Linked DNA regions of Homo sapiens. The gene in region 1 interacts genetically with each later gene. Each region holds a gene or a part of one and is shown in the gene's direction. Other genes may lie near its edges.

What was found. Genes that interact genetically often act in the same process or in processes that back each other up.
Region 2: of ATG7 (region 1) and EI24, changing one enhances a phenotype caused by changing the other (phenotypic enhancement), as found in Homo sapiens cells (one large-scale study listed by BioGRID).

Annotation. Positions count from the first base shown.
Region 1 is NC_000003.12:11,362,897-11,366,396, forward strand, and holds part of ATG7 (ubiquitin-like modifier-activating enzyme ATG7), read left to right. Parts: coding exon 1-32; intron 33-1,762; coding exon 1,763-1,838; intron 1,839-3,500. UniProt on the Homo sapiens protein: E1-like activating enzyme involved in the 2 ubiquitin-like systems required for cytoplasm to vacuole transport (Cvt) and autophagy.
Region 2 is NC_000011.10:125,582,331-125,585,184, forward strand, and holds the end of EI24 (etoposide-induced protein 2.4 homolog), read left to right. Parts: intron 1-15; coding exon 16-90; intron 91-1,190; coding exon 1,191-1,353; 3' UTR 1,354-2,354; downstream 2,355-2,854. UniProt on the Homo sapiens protein: Acts as a negative growth regulator via p53-mediated apoptosis pathway. Regulates formation of degradative autolysosomes during autophagy.

The DNA of each region.
Region 1 (3,500 bases):
TTGATGGTATCTGTTTTGCAGCATCCAGAAGGGTGAGTTTGCTAGTAGGAGATGAGTATTTAAACAAAGCTTTTGTAGGCAGTTGTTCATCAGTGTCTCCCATGGCCTTTTCTCAGTCTGACTTTACAGAGAATTTCACTATTTCACCCTCAAAAAAACAAGACTAGAAAAAGCAGGTCTGGTTCTTTGGGCTGAGATAACTTGGCATGTTTCCTTTGTGGCCACATTTCTGCATCTTTCCGGACAAAGTCACTATGGTTTATTTTATTTTTCCAACGCTTATATAGGGCTTACTTTGTGCTAGGCACTGTTCTAAGCACCTTAGAAATTTTGCCTCCTTCAATCTTTTTTTTTTTTTTTAACGAGACGGAATTTCGCTCTTGTTGCCCAGGCTGGAGTGTAATGGCACGATTTTGGCTCACTGCAACCTCTGCCTTCTAGGTTCAAGTGATTCTCCTGCCTCAGCCTCCCAAGTAGCTGGAATTACAGGCATACGCCACCATGCCCGGCTGATTTTTGTATTTTTAGTAGAGATGGGGTTTTGCCATGTTGGTCAGGCTAGTCTTGAACCTCTGACCTCAGTGATCAGAAGTGATTCACCCACCTTATCCTCCCAAAGTGTTGGGATTACAGGCGTGAGCCATTGCACCCGGCCTCCTTTAATCTTCATAGCAAACATATTAGGAAAGAACTATTATTATTAGTCGCAGTTTTGATGGGGAAATCAAGGCATAGTGAGGATAAGTAAGTGGCCAAATTTACATAGTAAATGGAAAAGCCAGGGTTTAGCTCAACCAGTGTGGCTCCAGACTATGTTTAATGACTTTGTTATGCTGTTTGCAATACAGGCAGCAGAAAATCGAATTTTTGAAAGATTTATTTTTCCAGTTCTCAGAAAGTCAATATGCAAATTAACATGAATATTCTATTTCTTGTGTGACTCAAAGCTTTCCTCAGCAGTTGAAAATTGTGGTTGTATATGTAACTAGTATGGGTACTCTGAGATAAATGAAAAGCGGGGCTTTTTTGTCTTCCTCTTTGTCATCCACCTTAGCTATCTGTCATTTAAGTTTATTGCCACTCTCTGACAGGAAGTATTTGGGATAAAATCTTTGAGAGCTGACTTTATGCTTCCTTGACACTGAGCCTCTGTCTGCCACATTTGCCCTGGTCATAGTTTAAACACCAGGTCCTGTGTCACATCTTTTTGGTGCCACAAGTATCACTCCATTGTTCAGAGAGTAGTGTATTAGTTCTGCCCAATTCATTCTTCACTTTTATTTCTTCCATTTCATTAGCATTTATATCAGCTCAAGAAGTTAAGGTTAGAAAATTTTCCACTTCAAATTTTCAGTACAGAAATGTGCTGTGATGTTTGACAAGACTATTTCATAGTAAGTGAGTTAATGTTTATTGGCCTCTGATATGCCGAACATTGCACTCGGCAGTTGATGTAGTAGATTCCTCATTTATTAATCAGAGCTCCCTCATTCCTACTTTATAGATGATGGATCTGAAGCACAGAAAAGTTAAGCAACTTGCCTATGGTCACAAGCTCAGGTCTTTCTGACTCCAAACCATGCATGTTTAAATTACTCTTCTTGCCCTTTGTCCCAGGGAAATTAGTTTTTTGCTAACTTACACTGCCCAGCAAGGGGCATTTTAGTTATCCTTATGAATCTTATGTAGATTTCTGCTAGATCATCCTCCCATGTGTTAAACTTGGATTAAATGAGCAGCTCTGATTGTTTCCTGTCCTCAGGGGCTATGCCATTGCCAGCAGCAGTGACGATCGGATGAATGAGCCTCCAACCTCTCTTGGGCTTGTGCCTCACCAGGTTAGTGATGTGGAAGTGAAATCACAATTCTTTTGGTACAGGGGGAAAGCATGTGGGGTCTCTTTGCCATTCCATCTGCCCAGCCCACTTCATATCCACCCTACTTACCCTGCAGCTGGGATTTCAATGGGAGAGCTTTCTGACCACCTGGAAGGTATTCCATTCTGCGGGATAGTGATGGGAGGAAATCACGAACGAGAAGCATTGCCCAGAGTCTTTGATGCGTTTTGTAAACTGACTAGAGGCCTCATAATGCAATAGGAACAGAAAAAACAGGCTTTGGAATCAGTCATACAATGGTTTAAATCCCAGCCCTGCCGTTATAAAGATGGCCTTCTTTGGCCAAGTCACTAAACTTCTCTGAGGCTTAGTTTTCTTATCTGTAACATAGAGAAGGTAATGCTGACATCACCTGGTAGTTGTATGGATTATGGATGGTTGCTAGAAAGGGCTCAGCAACAGTGTATATCATAGGCCCTCAACAAACAATGCCTGCTGTTTCTTTACTGTTGCTTGTTATTATTATTGACTCTGAACCCAAATAGAAAACCTTTATAGGCAGGCATGAGAAAAACATTAGAAGCATGCAGGGTCACCAAAAAGTGGGGTGTCTTTTCAGAAAAAGAATCCAAAGCATCATGAGGAAGTTCCATCCCTTAGGGAGTAAAAAGAAAAAGGCAGTGGGATGATCTTTTAGAATTCATGTTGCCTCTTCAGTCATTTTCATTACTATATTTTTGGGAGATTGAAGAGGTTTTCCAGTCTTATTTGGAAATCATTTTTTTTTAGATTCCATGTATGTATCCTCTCCTGTAATGTGACTGCTGTTCCCATCAGTGAAATCGTGATGGTGCCCACCAGTCCTATCTGGTGATTTGCAAGGACAGACTCAGACGAGTGCAGAGAGCAGAGTGACTCAGCTCATGCTTGTCTCTCTCTTCCTCCTCGCCACCCACCTTCTGCCAGCTAGGGCGGCACTGTCATATTCAGTTTAGGATGAGAATCAGAAGAGGGGAAACGACTTCTTCATGGTCACAGAGACTTAGTGGATGAGCCACAATCCATACCTAAACTTGGCAGTCTGACAAATGTTCTTTCAAAGGTCTTGTGAGTTGAAAGATCCGTGGCCTGCATGTTGGGAGATTTTGCTTCCTGTTGGTACCCCAGCCCCCTTGCACAAAACCACCCATAATAGAACTTGTGGGCCGGGCGCGGTGACTCATGCCTGTAATTCCAGCACTTTGGGAGGCCGAGGCGGGTGGATCACGAGGAGAGGAGTTTGAGACCAGCCTGACCAACATGGTGAAACCCCGTCTCTACTAAAAATACAAAAATTAGCTGAGCGTGATAGTGTGCACCTGTAATCCCAGCTACTCAGGAGGCTGAGGCAGGAGAATCGCTTGAACCCGGGAGGTGGAGGGTTGCAGTGAGCTAAGATCGCGCCATTGCACTGTGGCCTGGGCGACAGAGTGAGACTCCATCTCAAAAAAAAAAAAAAAAAAAATAGAACTTGTAGAGTTCACTTAGCCTCCCAGAGTCTCAGTTTCCAAATCAAGAAAAGCAGGTGCTTTACTTTGTGTCCAGGATTACATCTGACACGGCCTTGAAAACCACAAAACACTATGAAAATGTGCCCCCCTCTGTCCCCCACACACAAGGTGG
Region 2 (2,854 bases), on another chromosome or scaffold:
TTTTTTTTTAAACAGTGGCTGCCTTTTCTCTATCCTCTTTCCTTTATTCATTATCAGCGCCAATGAAGCAAAGACCCCTGGCAAAGCATAGTAAGTATTAGCCAGTGATGAAATTTTTGCTGTGTAAAGGGTTGGGGCTGTAACACCAGTTATGTCAGTGAGGCTTTTTAAAAAAAAAAATTCTTACTGTAGGAAAATCTTAATATAAGGTTTAATGAGAGAGAAACACTTCTGGGATATAACCCAAACTTTTCTCCATGCATATATGCACATGAGTATATATATATTTCCAAAACCGATCCCATTATACATATTCAAGTAGAGGGCTGTATGACCTGGCCACATGAGTTTATTGATAACAGTAGTAAAATATACTTTAAAATGAGTTTTTAGCAATAATAATAGCATTCTAAAAGTTTTATTACTTCAAAGAAAAGCTCAATTCATCTTTGATCAATTTTGGTTAAGTCAGTGTGGATACTTGTATTAGAGACTTAGGTCTGCTTTGGGTTTTTGTATGCTCTTGCTATACAGCACAGCTCACTGTTTATCTTAAGAGGAATATTTGACTTTCTTTTGAAACTCTTCTTCCTGCAACCACAGATAGCATATGATACCTTCAGACATAGCTTGAAGTCTGTACCCCGAAGTCAGCCATAGAAAAGTACTTCTCAAATCAAAGTTAATCTAAAATATAACTATTTCCTGTAAGAGCCACAATACTTCAACGCTGGTGACTGCATTACATTCATGGCAGCAGCAGGGCCCAATGCATTCTTTTTTTTTTTGAGACGGAGTCTCGCTCTGTCACCCAAGCTGGAGTGCAGTGGCGTGATCTCGGCTCACTGCAACCTCCGCCTACCAGGTTCAAGCGATTCTCCTGCCTCAGCCTCCTGGGTAGCTGGGATTGCAGGCGCATGCTACCATGCCCTGCTAATTTTTTTCTCAAGTGATCCACCTGCTTCAGCCTCCCAAAGTGCTGGGATTACAGGTATGAGGCACCACGCCCGGCTCCAATGTATTCTTTAGTTGCCTGTTCCATCCATGTATCTAATATCTGTATTTCCTTGATCAAGTTTCATTTGTCTTGTCTTTCCCTGTGTAGTTTTAAATTTAATGTCAAGTTGTCAAACAACGGAAATAATTTTGAGTAACTGGGGAGCTAACAAGTTGGGTTTCTTGCCTTTTAGTCTCTTCCAGTTGCGCCTCTTCTCCTTGGTGGTCTTCTTAAGCAACAGACTCTTCCACAAGACAGTCTACCTGCAGTCGGCCCTGAGCAGCTCTACTTCTGCAGAGAAGTTCCCTTCACCGCATCCGTCGCCTGCCAAACTGAAGGCTACTGCAGGTCACTGAGTTGCCTGCCATCCAAAGGGGATGGGCGGGATTGGAAGAAGCTGTGGCAGCTCTTTTCCCTGTTCACCTCCCGCCTGCCAGGGAAGGCAGGACCCGCTCTGCCAAGGGCCCTCTGCGTATTCCCTTCTCTCTGAGGAATTGAAATTTTTGTCTCTGGTGCACGTAAGGCAGAATGTTCCCTGACACCAGTGTGTGGATTTTTAACATCACCGTGAGTCTGAAAGGACCACAGGTTTTTCTGCAGCTATTTTCTAGCATTTGCCAGTCCCTGTGCCTGGACTGATTGGAACACTTTGTTTTTCTCCCTGTGCCATTTACCCTTCCACCTTTCCATCCTGCCTTCTACCACCCTTGGATGAATGGATTTTGTAATTCTAGCTGTTGTATTTTGTGAATTTGTTAATTTTGTTGTTTTTCTGTGAAACACATACATTGGATATGGGAGGTAAAGGAGTGTCCCAGTTGCTCCTGGTCACTCCCTTTATAGCCATTACTGTCTTGTTTCTTGTAACTCAGGTTAGGTTTTGGTCTCTCTTGCTCCACTGCAAAAAAAAAAAAAAAAAAAAAAAAAAAAAAAAAGCCTGAAGAGATGAGATAGGAGGAAAGACCTCACAGCCAGATCTGCTGGGTTTTGAGGAGTGATTTTCTTTCTTCCCCTTGAAGGGGAAAAAGCTATTTTCATTGGTACATTTAAAGTCCCCCAACTATGGGGAGGTACCAATTCTGGACAAGTGCCACTACAACAACACTAAACCTGAACTTTTCAACTCCGTTGGTGGTGGGAGGCAGCGGGCAGAAATTTACTGTTGGCCACTGCCAGGTCTATTTCATATTTCAAAGGAATATTGGGTGCTGCATATAGGAACTGAAGGGGTCAATGTATTAAACCTGTGATTGGTTGTTTTCCTGTCATTTTGAGAGACTAAATGTGGGGGGCAGATGTCAAAATACCTGTACAATTTTAAAATGTCACAATTAAACATGAGCTGGTTTCCCACAAAGTGTCTAATGGTTGAATTTGCAAATCTTGATTTCGAGAAATGTATTCATGGAATATAAGACTTTGTCTTGGATAATTTAGTTACAGTTTTGAGAAATTAGCCCTGAAAAATGTTCCCTGAGAAAGCCTGGATTATATGATTATAATCACATTTATATTTGGTAGAAGAGTCAGATTATTACTTTTTCTAAAGTCTATATGTATATCGCTACTGTATATTCATGAAGGGAGAAAGACCCTCCTAGATATTGGTGTATTGAGTATTAATCGAGGGAAGCCGTTAAACATCTGGTTAACAGAGACCTTTACTATGTGCAAGATAAAATATGGAATTAAAAATTGTTGCTGGGGCCAGGCATGGTAACTGATGGCTGGGATTCCAGCACTTTGGCAGGGGCCAAGGCAGGAGGATCACTTGAGTCCAGGAGTGCGAGACCAGTCTGGGCAACATAGTAAAACCCCGTCTCTATTAACTATAAAATAGGTTAGGCCGGGCATGGT